Homo sapiens: one gene and its partner. The protein of the gene in region 1 purifies or fractionates together with the protein of each later gene. This does not show direct contact. Each region holds a gene or a part of one and is shown in the gene's direction. Other genes may lie near its edges.

Region 1 (9,306 bases):
GATGTGAGGAGCGCCTCTGCCTGGCCGCCCCGTCTGGGATATGAGGAGGGCCTCTGCCCGGCCGCCACCCCGTCTGGGAAGTGAGGAGCACCTCTGCCCGGCCATCACCCTGTCTGGGATGTGAGGAGCGTCTCTGCCTGGCCGCCCTGTCTAGGAAGTGAGGAGCGCCTCTGCCTGGCCGCCCCGTCTGGGAAGTGAGGAGCGCCTCTGCCCGGCCGCGCCATCTGGGATGTGAGGAGTGCCTTTGCCCGGCTGCCACCCCATCTGGGAAGTGGGCTGCCCATTATCTGGGAGGTGAGGAGCACCTCTGCCCGGCCACCCCATCTGGGAAGTGGGGAGCACCTGGCCGCCCTGTCTGGGATGTGAGGAGCGCCTCTGCCCGGCCGCCACCCCATCTGGGAAGTGGGGAGCGCCTCTGCCCGGCTGCCCCGTCTGGGAAGTGGGGAGCGCCTCTGCCCGGCCGCCCTGTCTGGGAAGTGGGGAGCGCCTCTGCCCGGCTGCCCCGTCTGGGAAGTGGGGAGCGCCTCTGCCCAGCCGCCCCGTCTGGGAAGTGGGGAGCGCCTCTGCCTGGCCGCCACCCCGTCTGGGATGTGAGGAGCGCCTCTGCCCGGCCGCCACCCTGTCTGGGAAGTGAGGAGCGCCTCTGCCCGGCCGCCCATTGTCTGGGATGTGAGGAGCGCCTCTGCCCGGCCGCCCTTCGTCTGGGAGTTGAGGAGCACCTCTGCCTGGCTGTCCCATCTAGGAAGTGAGGAGCGCCTCTGCACGGCCGCCCCGTCTGGGAGGGGAGGAGCGCCTCTGTCCGGCCTCCCATCGTCTGGGATGTGAGGAGCGCCTCTGCCCGGCCACCCAGTCTGTTAAGTGAGGAGCTCCTCTGCCCGGCCACCCTGTCTGGGAAGTGAGGAGTGCCTCTGCCCGGCCGCCCCGTCTGGGAAGTGAGGAGCGCCTCTGCCTGGCCGCTGTGCAGTCTTCCAAGTGTGAAGTGACAGCCTTTCTGCAGGTGTACCCAACAGCACCGAAGAGACAGCGACCATCGAGAATGGGCCATGATGACGATGGCGGTTTTGTCGAAAAGAAAAGGGGGAAATGTGGGGAAAAGAAAGAGAGATCAGATTGTTACTGTGTCTGTGTAGAAAGAAGTAGACATAGGAGACTCCATTTTGTTCTGTACTAAGAAAAATTCTTCAGCTTTGGGATGCTGTTAATCTATAACCTTACCCCCAACCCCGTGCTCTCTGAAACGTGTGCTGTGTCAACTCAGGGTTAAATGGATTAAGGGTGGTGCAAGATGTGCTTTGTTAAACAGATACTTGAAGGCAGCATGCTCGTTAAGAGTCATCACCACTCCCTAATCTCAAGTACCCAGGGACACAAACACTGCGGAAGGCCGCAGGGACCTCTGCCTAGGAAAACCAGAGACCTTTGTTCACATGTTTATCTGCTGACCTTCTCTCCACTATTATCCTGTGACCCTGCCACATCCCCCTCTCCGAGAAACACCCAAGAATGAACAATAAATACTAAAAAAAAAAAAAAAAACTACAGGTAGAAACAGATGAAGGCCAGGCATAGAACTTTGGATAATCCCAAGGTATAAGGATTTGGAGGAAGAAGTGAACGGTTGAATAGAAAGCAGAAAATGTAGGAGACAAAATGTAGACCATGGTTTAGTGAAGCGTGGCTGTGAGGACCCAGAGAGCTGTAAGGCAGTAACCAGAAGTAGGAAGGGAGACTTGGTTTGCCTTTTCTGAAAAAAGATATAATAAAGTCATGAAAGGAGCTGATAGTTGGCTACATTTACCCGTGTAACTGGCAGTGACACAATTACGACTCATTGCAGCCTTGACCTCCTGGGCTCAAGCAATCCTCACATCTCAGCGTCCTGAGTAGCTGGGACTACAAGTGCACCCCACCACACCTGATTAATTTTTTGCATCTTTTGTAGAGATGGAGTTTTGTCAGTTGCTTAGGCTTGGTCTTGAATTCCTGGGCTCAAGCGATCTGCCCACCTTGACCTCCCAAAGTGCTGGGATTGACGGTGAGCCACTGTGCCCAGCTTCTTTTTTTTCTTTTAAATATAAAAATTTTTTTTTAGGCTGGGTGTGGTGGCTCACATCTGTAATCCTAGCACTTTGGGAGGCTGAGGCAGTTGGATTGCTTGAGCCCAGGAATTCGAGAGTAGCCTGGGCAACATGGCAAAAACCCATCTCTACAAAAAATAGAAAAATTAGCCAGGTGTGGTGGCAGGCGCCTGAAATCCCAGCTACTTGGGAGGCTGAGGTAGGAGGATCACCCGAGCCTGGGAGGTCAAGGCTGTGGCGAGCTGTGATCGTGCCACTGCACTCCAGCCTGAGTGACAAGAGGGATCCTGTATCAAAAAAAAAAAATACATATATATATATGTACGTTTAGAGACTGCATTTTGCTATGTTGCTGAGGCTAGTCTCGAACTCCTGGACTCAAGGGATCCTCCCCTCACCTTCCCAAAGCGCTTGGATTACAGGCATGAGCCACTGTGCCAGACCTCCAAGGATACATTTTTTGTTTTGTTTTTGTTTTTGTTTTGAGACAGAGTCTTGCCCTGCCACCTAGGCTGGAGTGCGGTGGTGTGATCTCGGCTCACTGCAACCTCCGCCTCCCGGATGCAAGCAATTCTTCTGCCTCAGCCTCCCAAGTAGCTGGGATTACAGGCACATGCGACCACGCCCAGCTAATTTTTATATTTTTAGTAGAGACGGGGTTTCACCATATTGGCCAGGCTGGTCTCGAACTCATGACTTTGTGTTCTGCCTGCCTCAGCCTCCCAAAGTGCTGGGATTACAGGCGTGAGCCACCGTGCCTTGCTTAAATAATACGTTTATAATAATTGACCACTTATGGGAGTTGGGAGCTGTAATGGCTGCTTAAAGTTGGCAACATAGTCTCATTTTAATTGTGAAATACAAAAATTTTTATCATAATAGTTAATGAACATGAATAATATTACAAACATGTTAAAATTATGTGATTAGACACATTAGGGGCTATCCAGGCTAGTGTGTATAGGTTACCACTGCCTGTGCCTCAAAAAACTCACATAGATTTGTGCCTTGGATATCCTTTGATGCAAATTCTTAGAATTTTCTGATATGACATACCCTTAAGTATACTTTATCATATAGTAACTAGTATTACGTGGACACAGTTTATTTATTTATTTTTTTTGAGACGGAGTCTGGCTCTGTCATCCAGGCTGGAGGGCAGTGGCGCGATCTTGGCTCATTGCAACCTCCACCTCCCGGGTTCAAGCGATTCTCCCACCTCAGCCTCCCAGATAGCTGGGATTACAGGCTGCCACCACCACACCCAGCTAATTTTTGTATTTTTAGTAAAGATGGGTTTTTGCCATGTTGCCCAGGCTGGTCTTGAATTCCTGGGCTCAAGCAATCCAACTGCCTCAGCCTCCCAAAAAGTGCTAGGATTACAGGTGTGAGCCACCACACCCAGCCTAAAAAATTTTTTTTTTATTTAAAAGAAGAAAAAGGCTGGGCACAGTGGCTCACCATCAATCCCAGCACTTTGGGAGGTCAAGTTTCACTCCCAGAGTGCTGGGATTACAAGCGTGAGCCACCACGCCCAGTATGATTTGTATTTTTTATAAATATTTTAATGTTGTAGAAGAAAAAATATTGCCAAGCATAGCATTTTTCTCCCCACCCCTTCTTACCTGTTTAATGACACGGCACAATATTGGCCATAGGCAAGAAGGGTGAGGCTGAGCTCACTTGCTGTTTTTTTTTTTGAGGAATGGGTACCAAATTTATTTGTTAATTTCTTGCATTTGAAGTACACAGTCACATCCTTGGCCTGAAATTCTTTGCTGTAGCCCTTCACTGTGACACAACTGCAACCAACCACTTTACAAAGTTTTCCTTGTCTATCAGTTTTACAAAGGCTTAGCCATGTCTCTGGTTTCTTAAGGTCATCAACCTTAATTGGGTTGATTTGGTGTTCGGCACAAAGGGCCACCCCTAGCTTGACATACATAGGCTCTTCACATTTGGATGCAAGCACGCAAAGATGGGCTTGGCCCTTGTCTAAGGCTTTGGCAGCTTTGCAGGTTCCACCTGCTAGGCCATCATGGCTGAGGGCGGTCTTCAGTCTCTTGTAGAGCAGTATTAATATCCATTACACCTCCAGCAGCGTGTCTTCCTTGGTCATGGTGGTGGGTTACAGGTGAAGGTGAATCTTGAGCGCACTCAAGCTTCTGTCTCTGAGCATGTTGTCCATGGCAGAGAAAGAGAGTTGCCTTTCTTTTCTTAACTGCAGGTAGTGGGCAGCAGTCAGTGACAGGTGTAACCTCTGTGGATGACAGCAACAGTTACTGGAGGATACGGGGGAAGAGTGCCACAGTGTGTGAGAGGGGAACCCCCATCAAGTGTGGCCAGCCCATCCGGCTGACACATGTCAACACTGGCCGAAACCTCCATAGTCACCACTTCACTTCACCTCTTTCTGGAAACCAGGTGAGGTGGCTTTCGATGGATTGTTGCTGCTCTGCATTACTCAGTGGGTGCTTGTTTGATCTCTTGGTTCTTAAATGTTTCTTTTCTAGGTGTAGATGTTCTCTTTTGTGCAGACCTGGGGAAATGGCTCTATTTTTGTGTGGGTTTTTGTTGTTTTTGAGACGCAGTCTCACTCTGTCACCCAGGCTGCAGTGCAGTGGCATGATCTTGGCTCACTGCAACCTCCGCCTCTGGGTTCAAGCAAGTCTCCTGCCTCAGTCTCCCAAGTAGCTGGGATTACAGGCGCATGCCACCATGCCTGGCTAATTTTTGTTTTTATTTTTATTTTTTTGAGATGGAGTCTCACTCTGTCACCCAGGCTGGAGTGCAATGGCATGGTCTCAGCTCATTGCAACCTCTGCCTCCTGCGTTCAAGCGGTTCTCCCACCTCAGCTGCCCGAGTGGCTGGGACTACAGGCGTGTGCCACCACACCTGGCTAATTTTTTTTTTTGTATTTTTAGTAGAGATGGGGTTTCACTGTGTTGGCCAGGCTGGTCTCGAACTCCTGACCTTGTGATCTGCCCACTTCGGCCTCCCAAAGTGCTGGGATTACAAGTGCAAGTCACCGCGCCTGGCCTGATTTTTGTATTTTTAGTAGAGATGGGTTTTCACCATATTGGTCAGGCTGGTCTCGAACTCCTGACCTCAGGTGATCCACCCGCCTCTGCCTCCTGGAAGTGTTGGGATTATAGGCATGAGCCACTGCACCCAGCCGGCTTTGTTTTATAAGTGTGAAGAAAATTGTTTCTGGTCAAAGTGGAGACAACAACTAAACCAAATCAAGAAATGGGAAGGACAGACAGACTGGGTATACATCAGCATATCATAAGTTCTGATATTCTGCAATAAAGAAACCCAATGTTTTCCAACTTGCAGTGTTTTTTTTTTTTTTAATGATGCTAACTAGTTACATTAGGAAAATAGATTTGCTTTTGTGTCACTGTTTTTTGTTTTTAAACAGGGTCTTGCTCTGTCACCCAGGTTGTAGTGTGATCTTGCTCACTGCAGCCTCAGCCTCCTGGGCTCAAGCAATTCTCCCACCTCAGCCCTCACTACAGGCTCACGCCACCATGCCTGGCTAATTTTTGTATTTTTTTTGGTAGATACGGGGTTTTGCCATGTTGCCTAGGCTGGTCTCAAACTCCTGAGCTCAAGCTATCTGCCTGCCTCAGCCTCCCAAAGTGCTGGGATTACAAGCATAAGCCAGTACACCCAGCCTTGTGCCACTGTTTTAAGCCTTGAGTTGTCAGGGGATGTGGACACCTTAATGACTCCTTCCCTGTCCCCAGCCCCTGTATGCAGTTTTCCCTATTAATATCTTACCTTCGAAGGGTAAATTTGCTATATTTAATGAAGCAATATTGATACAGTTTTATTAACTAAAGACCATAGTTTTTTTCTGATTCCCTTGTTTTGTTTTGTTTTGTTTTGTTTTTTGAGACAGAGTCTCGCTCTGTCCCAGGCTGGAGTGCTATGGCGCGATCTCAGCTCACTGCAACCTCCGCCTCCCAGGTTCAAGCTATTCTCTTGCCACAGCCTCCTGAGTAGCTGGGATTACAGGTGCCTGCCACCACGCCCGGCTGATTTTTGTATTTTCAGTAGAGACGGGGTTTCACCATGTTGTCCAGGTTGGTCTCGAGCTCCTGACCTTGTGATCCACCCACCTTGGCCTCCCAAACTGCTGGGATTACAGGCGTGAGGCCTCCGTGCCCGGTCCCTTAGTTTTTACCTAATGTTCTTTTTCCATTCCAAAATACCACATTACATATACTTGCCATGTCTCATTAGGCTGTTCTTGGCTGTGACAGTTTTTCAGGCTTCCCTAGTTTTTGATGACCTTGACAGCTTTGAGGAGTGCTGGTCAGGTGTATTGTAGATTGCCCCTCTGTTGGAATTTGTTTTTCTTGTGATTAGACCGGACTTATAAAGGGTTTGGGAGGAAGATCACAGAGGTAAAGTGCCATTTGTATCCCATCATATCAGGGGTACATACTATCTTTATGATTTATGACTGTTGATGTGGACCTTGATTACCTGGCTGAAGTAGTGTTTGTTCGTTAGGTTTCTCCTGTAAAGTTATTCTTTTCATTTTCCCCCTTTCCATGCACTTTTTGGAAGAAAGTCACTATGTGCATTTCACTCTTACAGACTGGAGAGTTATACTCTGTCTACATTAGGGTGGAATATCTACATATTTTATTTGGGATTTTTCCATATTGGGGATTTGTCTCTTTTCCCCAATTTATTTATTTATTCAGTTATTTACATTAGTATAAACTTATGGATAGTTTATACTTCGTTATAATCTAATGCTACTATATTTTGTTGCTCAAATTGTTCCAACTTTGGCCATTGGGAATTCTTTCAGCTGGCTTTGTGTCCATTGGCAGTATCCCATTGTGTTTTTGTGTATATGTGCCTGCACTTTAAAGCACTTCTTTCCTTTCTGGCACCAAAAGATGCTCCAGGCTCATCTTGTTTATTTCTTGCTCCAGTACTAGAATCAGCTGTTTCTCCAAGGAGCTCTGCTTCCTTTTATTGGAGAATGATATTAAAACCAAGTTCTAGGCCTTATGTAAGCTTGTTGCTACTGGAGTGTTTCTTTTAGGCCCTCTCACTTGACAGAATAAATAACTGTAAGCCAGGCGCAGTGGCTCACACCTATAATCCCGGCACTTTGTGAGGCAGAGGTGGGTGGATCACAAGGTCAGGAGTTCGAGACCAGCCTGGCTAACATGGTGAAACCCCGTATCTACTAAAGTACAAAAATTAGCTGGGCATGGTGGCGGGAGCCTGTGATCCCAGCTACTTGGGAGGCCGAGGTAGGAGAATCGTTTGAACCTGGGAGGCGGAGGTTGCAGTGAGCCGAGATTGCACCATTGCATTCCAGCCTGGGTGACAGGGCGAGACTCTGTCTCAAAAAAAAATTAAAAAAATAAAGAATTGTTACCTGTGTGTGCTTACTCGTGTATATATTACATATCTATAAATTTTTATTTGCATAGCCATCTGTATCTACATATATTAAGTTAAATGAGCTTTCTTTTTCTTTTTCTTTTTTTTTTAAGATGGGTTCTTGCTGTGTTATTCAGGCTGGAGTGCAGTGGCTACTCACAGGTGTGATGATAGTGCACTAGAGCCTCGAACTCCTTGGCTCAAGCAGTCCTCTTGCGTCAGCCTTCCAAGTAGCTGGGGATACAGGCATGCCCCACTGTGCCTGGCTAGTGTTCTTATTGATGTCTTTAGCTGTAATCCATTACCACATAGATCGTCCTAGCCTCCTCCCTGTGCTAATTTGTAAATTCCCACTCCAACAGTAAGATACCTTGTTCCTACCATCTGCCATCCATGTATTGAACTTCAGTTCAGTTCCAGTATACAAATATAGCAGTATCAGAATTACATACTGGTACCCTCCTGGGAACAATTTTATCAAGTAGAGTGTACACACACACACACACACACACTTCTGAAATAATCAGTAATTTTTTAATTGCCATCGTATAGAAACTGAATATTTGGCCTTAAGGAAGATGGGATTTAGATGAGGAGTAGAATATAGAGAACTTGCTTTCTCTCTCACTGCCTTATTAGAAAGAAAGAAAAGAATGTAGAAAACTTGCTATGTTTTGCTCAGTTAATATTTGCTATCTCATTTAATTCTCACAGTTGCTCTGTAAGGTGATATTGTGATCATTTTATAGAGGAGAAAACAAAGGCTCAAAGGATTTACAGAAGAAGGGATCAAGTTGAGATTCAAGGTCAGCCTGACTCCCAGAGTCCATTCCCTTTTGAACTTGTCATCAGGTCATTTAAAATCTAGTTAAGAGAATGAAGCAGTAATATTTAAAGTCAAATAACAAGAGATATAAAGTATTTTAAGGGCAGAATGTGGTGGCTCATGCCTGTACTCCCAGCACTTTACTACGCTGAGGTAGGTGGATCACTTGAGGCTGGGAGTTTGAGACCAGCCTGGTCAACATGGTGAAACCCCCATCTCTATTAAAAAATACCAAAATTAGCTGGGTGTGGTAGCACATGCCTGTAATCCCAGCTATTCTGGAGGCTGAGGCATGAGAACCCAAGAGGTGGAGGTTGCAGAGAGCCGAGATTGTGCCATTGCACTCCAGCCTGGGCGACAGAGCGAGATGCTGTCTCAAAAAAGTAAAGTATTTTAAAGCCAGCACGGTGGCTCACACCTGTAATCCCAGCACCCTAAAAGACCAAGTGGGGAGAATCGTTTAAGTCCAGGAGTTAGAGGCCAGCCAAGGCAACACAGTTGCCTACCAAAAAACTTTTAATTACCTGGGTGTGGTGGTATATGCCTGTTGTCTTAGCTACTCAGGAGGTGAGGCCATAAGACCACTTGAGGCACTGCACTCCAGCCTGGGCAACAGAGCAAGATACCCTAACTGTTTTTTTTTTTTTTTTTTTTTTTTTTTTGAGACAAAGTCTCACTCTTGTCATCCAGGCTGGAGTCCAGTGGTGCAATCTCGGCTCACTGCAACCTTCGGCTCACGGCAACCTCCGCCTCCCAGGTTCAAGCGATTCTCCTGCTTCAGCCTCCCGAATAGCTGGGATTACAGGCGCCTGCCACCACACCTGGCTAATTTTTGTATTTTTAGTAGAGATGGGGTTTTACCATGTTGGCCAGGCTGGTCTTGAACTCCTGACCTCAGGCGATCTGCCCGCCTCGCCCTCCCAAATTACTGGGATTACAGGCATGAGCTACCGTACCTGGCCACAATCCCAACTCTTAAAAAG
Region 2 (9,306 bases), on another chromosome or scaffold:
CGTGCAGTGAGCTGTGATTATGCCACTGCACTCTAGCCTAGCTGACAAAGTAAGATCCTGTCTCAAAAAAAAAAAAAAGTTATTCGACTATAAACATGGTATCTTTAGAATCATACCTTCAAGGCTAGGACAACTGAAGGAAAACTTTTCAAAAATATTTAAATAGCCTATCGTTATTCATGTTTAAGCAGTGTCCTGGTATTAAGTGTCACAGTTACCAAAAGAAAACGTCGTCTAACACAAGTGTATGTTTGAAATTGCATACGGACCTCCAGTGCTATCTTTTCCAGCTGAGGAAATGGTTGAGTGCTAGAAATTTTCAAGGTTCTTCATCTCTATTAAATATGACCATTAGCTCATAATTCAATGAAGATACCTCATTGATTCACTTTTATTTATTTATTTATTTATTTATTTATTTATTTATTTATTTATTTATTTTGAGACGGAGTCTCGCTCTGTTGCCCTGGCTGGAGTGTGGTGGCACGATCTCAGCTCACTGCAACCTCCACCTCCTGGGTTTAAGCAATTCTTCTGCCTCAGCCTCCCGAGTAGCTGGGACTACAGGCCAGTGCCAGCACTCCTGGCTCTTTTTTTTTTGTATTTTTAGTAGAGACAGGGTTTCACCATATTGGCCAGGCTGGTCTCAAACTCCTGACCTAGTGATTCGCCTGCCTCTGCCTCCCAAAGTGCTGGGATTACAGGCGTGAGCCACTGCACCCAGCCTGTTTCACTATTTTTTATATGCTCCAGTTTTTGTTTTTGTTTTTTAAGGAGAGGGATCTAAATATCCATTTCTTTGCAGTATTGCTCTTTCTAGTGGAATAATGTTAATTGAAAGACTTGGTGAGCTTTTTCAAGTATACTGTTGTATTAGGAAACAAAGTTTAAAAGAGCTTAACCAGTGAGCTTATTTTCTCATGTCAGTATTCTTGAACCAGACTATACATTTCCTAATAAATGCACATATCTTCCCTGTAGCCACTATTGAGTCCTTACTTATATAGATGATGTGATGAGTTAACTTGAGTGTATACATGTATCTGCCATGTATAATAGGTCAAAGATAAAGTTTGCATGTTTTCATCATCAACTCAATTGCTGCCTTATGAGAAAAAAAACAGTGCTTATTTCTTCATTAATTAAAAAAAATCATAAATCTCTGGTCATATGGAAAAGAAAGGATAGTGGGCTTGGCTCAGTATTTTTTAAAACCCGTAGCCAAGTCTTTGTTTCATTGAATTTTTAGCCAGCATAGCTTATGTGTACCTGCTCCCAAGCTCCCACAATACTACAGTAAAATTAAGACTTGGTAGCATAGCTGGACATACATGAGTTATTTATATACCCAACTCACTGGTGCCTTTCATTAATTCTAAAGCTAGCCAGTTATTCTGACAGGTTCATTTGCTTTTTTGCTTTGTTCTGTTGTGATGATTTGCTTTTTATTTTTAACATTTTTTAGGCTTACTTCACTTTATTTTTCTTGTATAAAAACCCTATGTTGTAGCCACAGCTAGAGCCTGGGTCCTCTGTCTGGAGACTCTGGTGTGGGTCTTGACGAGGTGGCCAGTGAATTCCTGATACGGAGACTTGGTGAATACAGTCTCCTTCCAGAGGTTGGGGGCCAGTTAGCTGTAGGTCTTGGAGATGGCATCATAGGTGGCCTTGGTGAAGTTGGCCAGGGTGGCAGTGCAGCCCCTGGCTGAGGAGTAGCAGTCATCGATACTGGCCATCATCAGCAGCTTCTTGGGCACTAGGGCTAAGAGAATGCCAGTGCCTCTGGGTGCAGGGATGAGGCGCACCAGCACAAAGCCACAGCAGTCTGTCACCTTGCAAGGGACTGCGTGGTGCTTGCTGATCTTGTTCCCCCAGTAGCCTCTGTGCACGGGGACATTGGAGAGCTTGGCCAGGATGATAGTCCCTTGGATGGCAGTGGCCACCTCCTTGGAGCAAGTGGCCATTGTAGTCCCCAGTGGCAACAAACACCTGGAATCTGGTGTGCTGGCCAGTGCGCGTCTGCTTCTGCACTGGCACAATCTTCAAAACCTCATCCTTGAGAGAGGTCCCCAGGAAAAAGTCAATGATCTCAGACTCCTTGATGGGCAGGGAGAAGTGATAGGTTTTCAGCAGGACTTCATCTTCGTGTCTTTGACCAGGCAGCTCAGCTTGGTCATGGGTGTCCACTCCTTATCCTCAGCCTTGCCTCCTTGAGCTCTGTGGCCCCGACCCTGGCCCCAGATGCCACTGCCCAAGCCTCCATGGAAGTCACTGTGGTTCCCCATCCCAGGGTCTCTGGGGCCTCTGGGCCCTCCTGCTGCCCTAGCTTCATCTGCCATTTGATGTTTTTTCAGAGAAGAAGCTGATTTGCTTTTTAAACAAATCTCACCTCAGAAAGACTAGCTAGTATCTAGTACATAAAGTCCAGGGTGAGCATCCCACATTAAAAAATCTGAAATCTAAAATGATCCAAAATCCAGAACTTTCTGAGTGCTGATGTGATGGTGCTCAAAGGAAATGCTCATTGGAACATTCAGATTTGGGATGCTCAGTCAGTAAGCATAAGGCAAATATTCCAAAACCTGGACCTGAAATCCAAAACACCTCTGGTCCCAAGCATTTTGGATAAGTGATACTCAACCTGTATATTTATGTAACATCTCAAAACTATATATAATGTGACATACAAAGTGAAGACAGCCATGTCTTGTTAAGAACTGGTGCTTCCTGTACAGCCTAGAGGCATAAAGTTAATTTCTTAGTTTTGGCCAAAATGAATCGCTAATATTTTTAAGCCATTGCATAATTTTTTGCTGTTCCAACTTGTTTAGTAGTAGTGAATTGTAGATATTAGTGAATGTGTCTGTTTTGTCTTATTTTTTGCTTATTTTATCTTAACATGGTTATTTATTTTGCCTTTGAACACTTGGAATCTGTTTCTATAATAGCCTGGATGATGGCCGTTAGGAGTGGATTGATGTGAGGAGTTTGTAGGATGAGGCTGAAGGAAAGGATTAGCCTCCTGCACTTTGTAGAAATTCTCACTATAGTGCAGAATATTAAAAAGAGTCATTTTTAAAAAGATGAATTAATGTGAAATACTGTGTGCTTGAACCAGATTTCTACAACTGCTTTTGAAAATTTAAAAAGAAAATCCAATTTGGTTAAATCTATAGGGGACTAAAAGTTTGCTGTTAAAATTTTTAGTTAATTCACTAACCCTTTTTTTTTTCTTTTTTCTTTTTTTTAACCTTCAGATGGTGAGGTCTACAGCTTTGGGACTCTTCCCTGGAGAAGTGGACCAGTGGAGATTTGTCCAAGTAGCCCCATTCTAGAAAATGCCCTGGTTGGGCAATATGTTATTACTGTGGCAACAGGAAGCTTCCATAGTGGAGCAGTGACAGACAATGGTGTCGCGTACATGTGGGGAGAGAATTCTGCTGGCCAGTGTGCAGTAGCCAACCAGCAGTATGTGCCGGAACCAAATCCTGTCAGCATTGCTGATTCTGAGGCCAGCCCTTTGTTAGCAGTCAGGATTTTACAGTTGGCGTGTGGCGAGGAGCACACTCTGGCATTGTCAATAAGCAGAGAGATTTGGGCATGGGGTACCGGTTGTCAGTTGGGTCTCATTACCACTGCCTTCCCAGTGACAAAGCCGCAAAAGGTAGAACATCTTGCTGGGCGAGTGGTGCTTCAAGTTGCCTGTGGTGCTTTCCACAGCTTAGCCCTTGTACAATGCCTCCCTTCCCAGGATCTGAAGCCAGTCCCAGAACGATGCAACCAGTGCAGCCAGCTCTTGATTACTATGACTGACAAAGAAGACCATGTGATTATATCAGACAGTCATTGTTGCCCATTAGGTGTGACACTGACAGAATCTCAGGCAGAAAACCATGCCAGCACTGCTCTCAGCCCCTCCACTGAAACCCTTGACAGGCAGGAAGAAGTATTTGAGAACACTCTTGTAGCAAATGATCAGTCTGTTGCTACTGAACTGAATGCAGTAAGTGCTCAGATCACAAGCAGCGATGCCATGTCCTCTCAACAAAATGTCATGGGAACAACTGAAATTTCCTCTGCCAGAAACATACCATCATACCCTGACACCCAAGCAGTCAATGAATACCTACGGAAACTGTCAGATCATTCAGTAAGAGAGGACTCAGAGCATGGTGAAAAGCCAGTGCCATCTCAGGTACCTGCTCAATTTTATAAAATAAAAGTGTGTCTAGAGTTGAACTGTATGGGCTTTTCTTTAGAAACTTTAAAATGAGTAAGGCTTGGTAGCATTTTTTATTTTTTGAGTTTGATTATAATTTTGTTTTATCAGGCAAGCCTAGATAAAGGAAAGAACCTGGATTAATTCAAAATCACTCTTTATGTTTGTTCTGGCCCTTTATGATATTGAAAGGTGTCATGTTGGGCTTGTTTTATAAGTAGGAGCATTTCATTTTTTTTTCTTGCTAGTACTTTTTTTCTATGGCTAAAGTACTGAATTTTGGTGGGCCCTGAATAGTTTAATATAACTAGAGATTCACAAAGATTCTTCTTACTTGTGTTTGTAACACTCTTCAGAATTCTGTAGAGAAAAGTCTTTTCCTTCTTTAACAGGGAAGATTGTTTTGTGGCAGATCCTTCAATTGTAGGCAGATTTAAAACTTACAGGCAATTACATGTTTCAGTTTTTTTCAATTATAGCTGTGGTCCTTACTGGGCTTAATTTGAAGAGGTGGCTAATATTTTATCTTTTTGTTTGTTTGTTTTTGAGATGGGGTCTTGCTCTGTCACCCAGGCTGGAGTGCAGTAATGCGATTGTGGCTCACTGCAGCCTCGATCTCCCAGGTTCAAGCGATCCTCCCATTTCAGCCTTCCAAGTAGCTGGGACTATACACATGCCACCACACCTGCTGATTTTATTTTTAAGTAGAGTAGAGCCTGTTGCCCAGGCTCATCTCAAACTCCTGAGCTCAAGCAATCCTCCCACCTCAGCCTCCCAAAGTGTTGAGATTACAGGCATGAGCCATCATGCCCAGCCTATTTTATATATCTTATTAAAACTATTTTCATTTTGAAGATTTGTGGTAGAATGAACAAAAGTTGTTTATCAGTAGCACATGGTAAAGTTTGAGTTCCCGCTTAAACTAAATTGTTTTAAAAGGATTATTTCTGTGTTTTACTCTTAGTGTGGCCTTTTGATTTTGCTTTACCAAAACTGTAAGAAAACAAAACAAAAGATCATACTCATAAAAGATCTGTCCTGCAGTGTTTCTTTTTAGGTTTTTGAAACCACATAGCCTCTTGATTCTCAATTCTTATTGTTTACTCTGTCAGAATGTGAACATGAAGGTATTTTTAGAAATAGTCTTTATTTCACAATCTATTCACTGAAACTTGTGGGTATTTGAATTTTTAAAAAAATCAAGGATAAGCTGTTTGGAGAAAGGTATTATAAAGTCTGAACAAAGCAAAAGTAGTAGTTTAACAAGAATGCATGTAGAAAATTCTTAGACTGTACATGCTTATCACATTTTACTTACTTTGTTAAACATTGGAAGTTTTTGTTACTTATGCTAGTAACAATGTGTGTGTTTCTATTGAATTAAATTTAATTTATTTAAATTAAATGTGTGTTTCTATTACATTTAATTTATTCTTTGTAAATAACATCTCAATCATACAGCTAATTCACAAGGAATTTATTTGTTTTAGGGCAAGTTTTTTCTCTTCTGGCGAGATATAACTGAGACTCTCTCACTTGGGAAATAAACCAAAGTATTACTGGTTGACTGGAACTCCTAAAATTATATATTTCATCAAAATTGCTAATTATGTTTTTTGTAGGGGAGGGCTTATTACTATATTTTTAAATATAATTAAGTAGAAGGAGCCAGTTAGAACAGTAGTTCAAGGTTTATATAAGGTAGAGTTTTGTGACTTTGCTGTACCTAGTGGTTAAGAACCCCCTAAAATAGTTACCTCTAAATACCATCACTGCTTATGTAAGGAGCCTTTGTAAACAAAAAGTGGACATAGTGACACTAGTTCTTCTGAACAAGCTATCGTGGGAGCTGTATCACCAAAGAAGTAATAGGCTTTGTATTTCTTTTTCGTTTTATTAAGTATATTTGTTTATTGACTATTTACAGACTAATTTGCATGGAAATAGCTCTTTTGAATTTAGCGTTTAATTCAACAAAATGTTTTGAGTACTTACATGTCAGGCACTTCGCTAGGTACCAGGAATTATTTCCTTTAGGAAGTCAGATGCCAATGTTAAAATATACAAACAAACACACACACACACACACACACACATGCGCACACACACACATTATATTTGTATTTTAGTTTAGGACAAATGAAGGAATGTGTATATTCCCTTTGAGATCTTTGGGTACAATAAGAAGCAAATTTTTCAATATGATCTATGCTGATGAGCTGAAAGCTTTTTTATGTGTTTGGTAGGTACATTTAATGACCTTCCTTTTTAGGGAACAATGATGTTTGACAGCTTAGAGTAAATTTCAACTGATTTTTTCATTAAGATATCAGAAAACTTTAGTTTGACTTTCTAGTACACTTCTAGAATCACACTAAGAACACTGGTTCCAAATGTTTAATTATTAACCTACCACATTTGCCATCTGTGGTAGCAAGAGCAAAGGTAATCCTACAGCTTTTCTAGCCCCTGGGTCATAGAAAATAACTCATTGATGAGCCAGTAAAGGCACTCGAGTTGAGCATAATTTGGGAGATGATAGGTTACAGGTATAACTTATTTTTCCATCTCCATATGCTATATCTAAATTTCAATTTATAAAGCATTTCAGGGAAAGCTTTTTTTTTCTTCATAAAATCTAATTTTTTTCCTGCCACTTCTAGGTAGTAGTCTGTATAAATTTTCCTGAAAGGGATCAATAATGAAATTTGCATTTTTTCAATCTTCTGTCCAGGGCTGTCACAGTGCACTTGGCATTAAAGGCAGTGTTTTCCATGCCTTTTCTTCTCCCTCCCTTTTTACTGTGTTTAATTTTATAAAAGCAGCCGAGGCTTATTTTGAAATACCATAGAAAAACACAACATCTAGACAAAAGGAAGTACTTTGGAGAAGGAACTGTATTTTGAGTACTCATTTCCATTTAATGTGTTAACTCCATGATCAAGAAGAGAATACCTTTAGTTGAAGATGAAGAGAACTTCTGTCGTTTTAGATTCTTACATGCAAATAGCGATGGATATTAGCCTTTCTTTTTATTGATTGCTTGTTGCATAAGGGATTATATTTTTATATAATTTTTTATGTGTGTATATTTTAGCCTCTTTTAGAAGAAGCAATTCCTAATCTCCACAGCCCGCCTACCACAAGCACCTCAGCCCTAAACAGCCTGGTGGTCTCTTGTGCATCTGCTGTTGGTGTGAGAGTGGCTGCTACTTATGAAGCTGGTGCCTTGTCACTGAAGAAAGTTATGAACTTTTATAGTACAACCCCTTGTGAAACTGGAGCTCAGGCAGGCAGTAGTGCCATTGGCCCCGAAGGTTTGAAAGATAGCAGGGAAGAACAGGTTAAACAGGAATCAATGCAAGGAAAGAAAAGTTCAAGTCTTGTGGATATCAGAGAAGAAGAAACAGAGGGAGGCAGTCGAAGACTCTCCCTCCCTGGATTGTTGTCACAAGGTAAGGAAATAACTAGGTTTTGTGAATTGACTTTTGGGGAATCCAGGATGCTCCTGACATCGCATGCTGTATTATTAAAAAAGCTGTCCTAATTATGAAGCTGACATATTCAAATGTGAATATTTATTTAATGGTGGTTTTAAAAGAAAGTTACATGTTTATCTGCTTTAGATATCACTATAAAGTTAGAACGTCACTTTTTCTTGATGTTTGCTCCTGCTTATGAACCTTATTGTGAATCTTATTTTATTGTTCTGGAGTGTTACAGTACCCTTCTTATTTCCTAATTGGGACCGATACTCCAGATCGATGAGGTTGGAGATGCGACCATTGGATAAGTGAATTACTGTACTTGACTTGAAAGAGGAGAGAATTCTTAAGCTTCAAGAAGAGAAAATTTCATTTTCTGAGACCATAGGCAATAAACTTTTTAGAATATTATGCAGTTGGTTCTTCTCCTTTTCTCAATCAGTTCAGCAGTCTCAGCCATCTGGACTTAATGCTTCTCAAGAGTGGCCTGCAGACCAGCAGCATCAGCAGCATCTGGGAACTTGTTACAAACGCAGACTCTCAGGTTCCACTCTCGACTTACTGAATCAAAACATGCATTAGAGCAAGGTCCCCCAGGTGATTAGTATGCACACTAAAGTCTGAGAAGCATTTGATGAGACCAGGATTTGGCAGACTTTTTCTGTAAAGAGCCAAAGAGAAATATTTTAAGGTTTGTAGGACATCCTGTCTCTGTGACAACTACTCAGCTACGCTGTGGTTATGTAAAAGCAGCCAGAGACAATATGTAATGAATGAGTGAAGCTATATCCCAACAAAACTTTATTTACAAAAACATATGGTAGGCCCTGTTTGGCCATGGGCTATAATTGACCAACTCCTGGTTTACATGATTTTGTGCAAAGCTCAAAAGTTAGGAATTCTAGACTGTACTAAAACTTACCTTTTTTACTCTGCACCTGTTTCTCCCCTTGTTCTACTTACTGAACACTCTTGTGCCACTCTTAATTCTCATTACCACCAGATTTTCCTCTACACAAATAAAACTTAAGTCATGATTAATGTGAATATATATGTATATATATATAATATATATGATGTATAAGAAGGCCTATGATCTCTATTAAATCTGAAGGAGAATCTTGCACCAAACTTTTCTTATTCTTAAGTGTCCTTTAGCATTTTAAGTATATAAATATATTTGCAATCTCTTTGAACTACAAATGTGGAATATTTTTTCATATCATTACATCATGAATCCCACTAATAGACTTATATCCTATGGTTAAATTTTACTTAGTAACCTAAAGTATCTTTCGAAAAATTTTACATGTACTCTTTTCCCCCTCTCTAAGAATTATCTGGAGTACATCCTTGAGGAATCTTCAAGTAGGTTTATTTGAGTCTCCGTATGCATAGAAACGATACATTCACCAGAAAAGATGTTGATATTAGGCAGTGATGATCACTTTCTTGTGGCCCTCAAGTTAATGACCTAATGACTAAGTCTCTACTGAGTGACATTTGATGATTTTCTTCAAATCTTATCCTGGCATCAAACACTATTCACATAGTGTTGTGTGTGTTTGATGTAATTTTGAACACTATAAAAGATGGCAATGT

The links.
Region 2: the proteins of SDF2 (region 1) and ALS2 purify together in Homo sapiens (affinity purification with mass spectrometry; 2 studies listed by BioGRID and IntAct, with this or other methods). This does not show direct contact.

What each region holds. Positions count from the first base shown.
Region 1 is NC_000017.11:28,650,483-28,659,788, reverse strand, and holds part of SDF2 (stromal cell-derived factor 2 precursor), read left to right. Parts: intron 1-4,305; coding exon 4,306-4,502; intron 4,503-8,246; coding exon of another isoform or gene 8,247-8,303; intron 8,304-9,306.
Region 2 is NC_000002.12:201,755,770-201,765,075, reverse strand, and holds part of ALS2 (alsin), read left to right. Parts: intron 1-1,465; exon of another isoform or gene 1,466-2,362; intron 2,363-3,257; coding exon 3,258-4,195; coding exon of another isoform or gene 4,196-4,273; exon of another isoform or gene 4,274-5,624; intron 5,625-7,316; coding exon 7,317-7,674; intron 7,675-9,306. UniProt on the Homo sapiens protein: May act as a GTPase regulator. Controls survival and growth of spinal motoneurons.